Linked DNA regions of Homo sapiens. The gene in region 1 interacts genetically with each later gene. Each region holds a gene or a part of one and is shown on either strand. Other genes may lie near its edges.

Region 1 (3,500 bases):
ACTCATCCCAGATGCTTCGGGCGGTCTCCCTGGGTCAGGACCGCTACAGACGTCGCTACTGGGTATTGCCGTATTTGGCTGGTATCTTTGTAGAAGGAACAGAGGGGAACTTAGGTAGGTGTGCCTGTGGGAGTGTGGATTCTGAGTCCTATCAAACAAGAATTAAATAATTCCTTTTCCTTAGTAGTCTTGGGCTTCTTTCATTTTCTGATAATATAGCGTAATGGTTAAGAGCACAGATTTTAGAGTAAAGCTGCCTACCCACCTGCTCTGCCATTTCCAGCTGTATGATTCTGTTTCTTCATTTGTGAAGTTGAGATAATAATAGTGTATGTACTTCATAAGGCTACTGAGAGGATTAAAATGAGTTAAGTCTCTTAGAATAATACTTAACCCGTAGTTGTTTCGCAATAAATGTTAGCTTATGATTGTGCTGCTGCTGCTGATTACTTGGGAGAATAGTGTTTCTTCCCCAGATACTGTGTTCATTGGCATATAAGCTCTTCCCAGTGGAATCTCAAAAAAGGGGGACTAAGTCCAAGAGAAAAAGAAAGTATAGGTCCTAAGTTTATATACCCTCTTACTTTTCCCTTGTATGTCAGCATATGGCTTAACTCTTTACTTCTCTTTACAGTTCCTGAGGAGGTGATAAAGAAGGAAACTGACTCCTTAAAAGTGGCAGCCCATGCGTCACTCAACCCTGCCCTCTTCTCTATGAAGATGGAGTTAGCTGGCTCCAACACCACTGCCAGTTCTCCTGCCCGGGCCCGAGGCCGACCTCGAAAAACTAAGCCCGGGTCTATGCAACCTAGGCATCTTAAGTCCCCTGTCAGGGGTCAGGATTCAGAACAGCCCCAGGCCCAGCTTCAGCCTGAGGCTCAGCTTCATGCTCCTGCCCAGCCCCAGCCTCAGCTTCAGCTTCAGCTTCAGTCCCATAAGGGGTTCCTGGAGCAAGAAGGCTCCCCTTTGTCACTGGGTCAGAGCCAGCATGACCTCAGCCAGTCAGCCTTCCTGTCTTGGCTGAGCCAGACTCAGAGCCATAGCTCCCTGTTGAGCAGCTCAGTCCTCACACCTGATAGCAGTCCGGGAAAACTAGACCCAGCTCCATCACAACCCCCGGAGGAGCCAGAGCCTGATGAGGCAGAATCCAGCCCTGATCCTCAAGCACTCTGGTTTAACATCTCAGCCCAGATGCCCTGCAATGCTGCCCCCACACCGCCCCCTGCAGTTTCTGAGGACCAACCCACTCCCTCCCCTCAGCAGCTTGCCTCCTCCAAGCCAGTAAGTAGCCAGAATTAGTAGTATGCACTTGATTTCATCTTGCCACAGGCACCATTGCCTGGGTGTGGAGCTGCTGCCTGAAGTTGAGGGAACCTATAAACATGAAAACATCCTCATTTCCTTATGTCTCATTTTATTCACAGATGAATAGACCTAGTGCTGCCAACCCTTGTTCTCCAGTGCAGTTCTCTTCCACGCCCTTGGCTGGGTTGGCCCCTAAGAGGCGAGCAGGAGACCCTGGAGAAATGCCACAGAGTCCCACAGGGCTGGGACAGCCCAAACGGAGAGGGAGACCTCCCAGTAAGTTCTTCAAACAGATGGAACAGCGTTACCTAACCCAGCTGACAGCCCAGCCTGTCCCACCTGGTGAGTGACCTTGGAGTGAGGGCATCCGGTGTGGGCAGTGCTTCACAGCTGGCGCCCCACATATATCTCATCTGCTCACAGAGATGTGCTCAGGCTGGTGGTGGATACGAGATCCTGAGATGTTGGATGCCATGCTCAAGGCCCTACACCCCCGAGGTATCCGGGAGAAGGCACTTCACAAACACCTTAACAAGCACAGGGACTTCTTGCAGGAAGTCTGCCTGCGGCCCTCAGCTGGTAAATACATTCCTACACCCAGCTTGAGCTGAAGAGCCCAGGATAAGCATTGAGCTGCTGCTAGGGACAACAGCCTGATGGGCCTCTCCCTCTGCCACCTCTCTTCTCAGACCCCATCTTTGAGCCCAGGCAACTACCTGCCTTTCAAGAAGGGATTATGAGCTGGTCCCCCAAAGAGAAGACATACGAGACAGACCTAGCAGTGCTTCAATGGGTAGAGGAGCTGGAGCAGCGGGTTATCATGTCTGATCTGCAGATTCGGGTATGCTGGGATTGGCACTGTGTAGGAAGGTTGGGGAAAAGCATTAGTCCCTTATGCCCTGTTAGAAAAAACCCTGGGTCCCTACTTCACAGGTGACCTACCTTAAGTGGGTCTTGTTTTTGTTTTTTTTTTTCCTATGCCAAATTTTCCTCCTTTTACAGTGAGTTTTATTCCTCTCTCTTAACTGAAGGGCTGGACATGTCCTAGCCCAGACTCTACCCGTGAAGACTTGGCCTACTGTGAGCACCTCTCCGACTCCCAGGAGGATATCACCTGGCGAGGTCGGGGCAGGGAGGGACTGGCACCTCAGCGTAAAACTACCAACCCTTTGGACCTGGCTGTGATGCGGCTGGCTGCCCTGGAACAGAATGTAGAACGGCGGTACCTGCGGGAGCCCCTCTGGCCAACTCATGAGGTTGTGCTGGAGAAGGCCCTGCTTAGCACACCTAATGGTGCCCCTGAGGGCACCACTACAGAGATGTGAGTGACTCCCACCCTCCATTCTTGGTCTTGGAGAGAAAGGGATAAGTTCCCTCTTTAGTGGATCCGCTCCTTCTCCAAAGATCACCACTTTCTCCCTCCAGATCATATGAGATCACCCCTCGCATTCGTGTCTGGCGCCAGACCCTCGAGCGGTGCCGGAGCGCAGCCCAGGTGTGCTTGTGCCTGGGCCAGCTGGAGAGGTCCATTGCCTGGGAGAAGTCTGTCAACAAAGTGGTAAGAGGCTGAGAGAGCCTGGAGAGGCTGAGGGGCCAGCCAGCAGGGGCGGGGTGGGGTCACTGGCAGGTAGAGGCTGGAGAGCTCATTCTGCCTCCTCACAACCTTGGTCCAGACATGTCTAGTCTGCCGGAAGGGTGACAATGATGAGTTTCTTCTGCTTTGTGATGGGTGTGACCGTGGCTGCCACATTTACTGCCATCGTCCCAAGATGGAGGCTGTCCCAGAAGGAGATTGGTTCTGTACTGTCTGTTTGGCTCAGGTAAGGCTTCTGCTCTTTCTTTCCCACACTCAAACAGAAATCAGAGATTATCCTCAATCTCTCCTCTCCTTGGAAAGAGTCCTAGACTGGGTATTAGGGGACCTGGGTTCTAAGTCCTTTTTTGGACAAGTCACTTAAATTCTATAGCTTTAATTGCTGTCTCTATAAAATGAGAATAACTATACCTTCCCTTTTACCTACTTCATTGGGTTATGTGAATAAACCAATGCCGGCTTATGCATGATAGTATTTTGAAGCCTTAAATCATATTTAGGCAGAGATTGTAGTAGGGCAAGCAGTGCATCTCCAGCTGTTGCTAATCTCACCTGTTTCCTATACTAAGCAGGTGGAGGGAGAATTCACTCAGAAGCCTGG
Region 2 (3,500 bases), on another chromosome or scaffold:
AGTAGGCCTTATTATAAAGTTCTGGTTGTTGTGCTTCCCTCTTGCCATTTTCTTTAATAGTGCAAATTCAGCTTGGCATCCTCTGTGATGTCTGGATGATTTTTTTTTTTTTTTTCTGGAACATAGCTTTACATTGTTTGACTATTGCCCATCCTTTGAGAGTCTGCTGTAGATGTAGCAGACAAGAAATTAAAGCCGCCGGTTGCAGTGGCTCACGCCTGTAATCCCCAGCACTTTGGGAGGCTGAGGCAGGCGGATCACAAGGTCAGGAGTTGAAGACCAGCCTGACCAATATGGTGAAACCCGGTCTCTACTAAAAATAGAAAAATTAGCCAGGCATGGTGGCGTGCGCCTGTAATCCCAGCTACTCAGGAGGCTGAAGCAGGAGAACCCTGGAGGCGGAGGTTGCAGTGAGCTGAGATCGAGCCATCGCACTACAGCCTGGGCAACAGAGAGACTCCGTCTCAAAAAATAAAATAAAACGAAATAATCAAAGCCGGGAAAAGTAATAGAGAAATGTACACAGTATTGTTGCTTTTACGGAAAGTTCAAGGATAAAGTAACGATGTTGGTTAATGCCATTAAAGACATACTGGTGATGTTCTGCTGGCACAGCAGCTCAATTAAAACTAAATAATAGTCACTTAAATTTTCAAATTTTTTTTCAACTAAATGAAACCACTAAAAGGTAGAGATCATTTTACCAAAACCCAGGTGGAGTATATGCAGAGAATTTAGTCTAGGAGATCTGTTGGGAATGGTTGAGTTACAGGAAGCTGTTGAGAACTGGAAGCAAAATGAGTATACCCAGGGAAATGAATAAAGCTTTTTGTTTTCCACCATGCTATTTGGTTTTAGTGTTGAGCCATCAGTCAGAATTAATTTTTCCTTCTAAAACATTTGCTGCTGCCTTCAGCTTGTTCCTCATTCTTGGTGCTGAATCTGTCAGTAGGAATGTATCTCCACAATGACGTGGTAAATGCAGATGAGCGTGGCCTGAGGCATGTGCAATATTTAGACATCTGTTGAATGATGTGATGCAAGTTATTTTAGGTAATTTCATTAAAGATACCTAATCTCTCTGTTTCTGTTAAATTTTTTTTTTTAACAAGCCAAGCTCCAGGACTGTGATAAGTAAACACTGAATTTAGACCATTAAGATTAAATGTTACATATAACATTTTCATTATGACTGAAATCATTTCAGTTTATATTACTGATGGGCTCAGAGGCCACATCATGGTATTCACTTTGGTTAAATTGTAAAATGGTTTTCTTTAGAAGGGAATACGGGCTCTAATGGTCATGATACATGTTTTCTTTTTCTTTTTTTCTAACAGAAAGCGTGGATACCCATCAACGAAGTTTTGATATTGGAATTCAGATTGGCTATCAGCGACGCAATAAGGATGTGTTGGCTTGGGTTAAAAAACGCAGAAGAACTATTCGTCGAGAAGATTTGATCAGCTTCCTGTGTGGAAAAGTTCCTCCACCACGAAACTCTAGAGCTCCCCCAAGACTGACTGTAGTGTCCCCTAACCGAGCTACTTCAACGGAAACTAGCTCATCTGTAGAGACTGATTTGCAACCCTTCCGGGAAGCCATAGCTCTGCATGGTAAAGCCGTTTAAACATATTTCTTTGGAAAAATGGTTAAGAGGGTGCCTGTGGACCCATTTTTCACGGTTAGGTTTAGGTCCAGATATACTGTTTTTTGTCTTACAGTAAACAGCTTGCTCTAGAAATGTTTAATAGAATGTAAGCTAAGAACTTAATATGGGCGATTTCTGTCAGCTAACCTATCCTAGAAAATGTTTTTAGAAAGTTAGTTTGAGCTTATTGGTGTTAAAATGACATATCTTTCTGCAGTGTTGATTAGAATTTATCGCTTTACACTTATGTGTTGTACGTGTTTTTTTCCTCTTCTGAAGTCAAAGAGGAAGTTCTTGTGTCTTAAGAATTCTGTTATATTTCTAATGGTCCATGACAGGCAAGTAAGGTGGGAAATTGTTGGGTTAGTTCTCATGGGACCTGGGACCTCCCTTGACACCTTTCTTACTTGGTTTGCTGTAGATGGTGGGAGAGGATGGATGTAAGACTTGACCTTCTGCCTGTCGTCCCTCAGGTCCCTTGCACTTTAAGAGGCAGGACCAGCAGAGTGCAGCCAGTGGGCAGGTGGATCTCTATCTCCCCAGGCCAGACCTGTCATAAGAAGGCACTCTTGGCTAAGGGATTTTAGTATTGCTGGAGAAACCCGGGAAATGTAGTCAGTGATAAGTCTGTTGTTGCTTGTTGCTGTCTAATACAGACTTCCAAATAGAGCTGGGAGAGTTAACCTGTGTGACAGCATTGAATACTGCTGTAGGAAAAAAAGCAACAGAATAATAAGACTTGCTTGAAACCATGATGGAAAGATGGATCACGCAGATGGCTAAGCAGGTAGAAGTAATTAGGTCATGAATCCTTTTTTTCTTTTTTTTTTTTTTTTGGAGACGGAGTTTCGCTCTTGTGGCCCAGGCTGGAGTGCATTGGCGCGATATTGGCTCACCGCGACCTCTACCTCTGGGTTCAAGCGATTCTCCTGCCTCAGCCTCCCGAGTAGCTGGGATTACAGGCATGTGCCACCACGCCGGCTAATTTTTTAGAGACAGGGTTTCACCGTGTTGGTCAGGCTGGTCTCGAACTCCCAACCTCAGGTGATCCGCCCACCTTGGCCTCCCAAAGTGTTGGGATTACAGGTGTGAGCCACTGCGCCTGGCCATGAGTCTTGTTGAAAGTTAACATTTTTGGGCCATAGTACAGGTCATCTAAAACAAAGTAACCTGGTAAGGTACTAAGAAATAGTGGCATATAAAGAAACTTTATAGACGTTGAATCATTGAGACTTTATAATACCTGTAGAGATCTTGTTCTCTCTGGCAAACCGTAGTTCTTTCCTGAAACCCCAATGTTGTTTTTTCCCTTGATAGTGTTTAGGACAATTAAAAACAAAAACATGAATTGCAGGAAAGTTCAGGTTGTGTGGATGCAGTACTTTAAGACTGCACACTGTTCCTGACACAGTGGAATAGTTAGGCTGTCAGAACTTTGGAAGCTCAGGCAAAAATGGGATTGATCTGTTTATGCTGAATTAGAGAGTTTCACATCTTTCCCCCTAAAGTTTGGGAAAACAATTAACTAGAGGTGTACATAGTTTGTTAGATTAATTTTAGCGCATGGTAATATTTGATGCAGTTGTCTCTCCTTAAGTATTGTGATTTTCTTCCTTTATTAAGAGGGTTGTGGGTCATTCCATGCTTCTCTTAAGGTATCTTTTTACTCTGTTTTACTGTTATATTTTAGAAGATAGTTTTAAGAAACATAAAAACCATGCTTGTTATCTTAACGTAGTAGTAGTGTACATAATAGTAAAAAGGGCAAGCCAGCCCCCTCTGCCCTCGAAAAACTGTATTCTCCAACTCCCACTACATTTTCTCATATTGAATCTGTTCCACCTGTGAT

What was found. Genes that interact genetically often act in the same process or in processes that back each other up.
Region 2: changes in BAZ2A (region 1) and HAPSTR1 together harm fitness less than expected from each alone (positive genetic interaction), as found in Homo sapiens cells (one large-scale study listed by BioGRID).

What each region holds. Positions count from the first base shown.
Region 1 is NC_000012.12:56,599,327-56,602,826, reverse strand, and holds part of BAZ2A (bromodomain adjacent to zinc finger domain protein 2A), read left to right. Parts: coding exon 1-114; intron 115-634; coding exon 635-1,281; intron 1,282-1,424; coding exon 1,425-1,647; intron 1,648-1,728; coding exon 1,729-1,884; intron 1,885-1,994; coding exon 1,995-2,146; intron 2,147-2,336; coding exon 2,337-2,626; intron 2,627-2,709; coding exon of another isoform or gene 2,710-2,730; coding exon 2,731-2,863; intron 2,864-2,978; coding exon 2,979-3,125; intron 3,126-3,468; coding exon 3,469-3,500. UniProt on the Homo sapiens protein: Regulatory subunit of the ATP-dependent NoRC-1 and NoRC-5 ISWI chromatin remodeling complexes, which form ordered nucleosome arrays on chromatin and facilitate access to DNA during DNA-templated processes such as DNA replication, transcription, and repair.
Region 2 is NC_000016.10:9,101,644-9,105,143, forward strand, and holds part of HAPSTR1 (HUWE1-associated protein modifying stress responses 1), read left to right. Parts: intron 1-1,340; coding exon 1,341-1,616; exon of another isoform or gene 1,617-3,500. UniProt on the Homo sapiens protein: Acts as a central player within a network of stress response pathways promoting cellular adaptability. The E3 ligase HUWE1 assists HAPSTR1 in controlling stress signaling and in turn, HUWE1 feeds back to promote the degradation of HAPSTR1.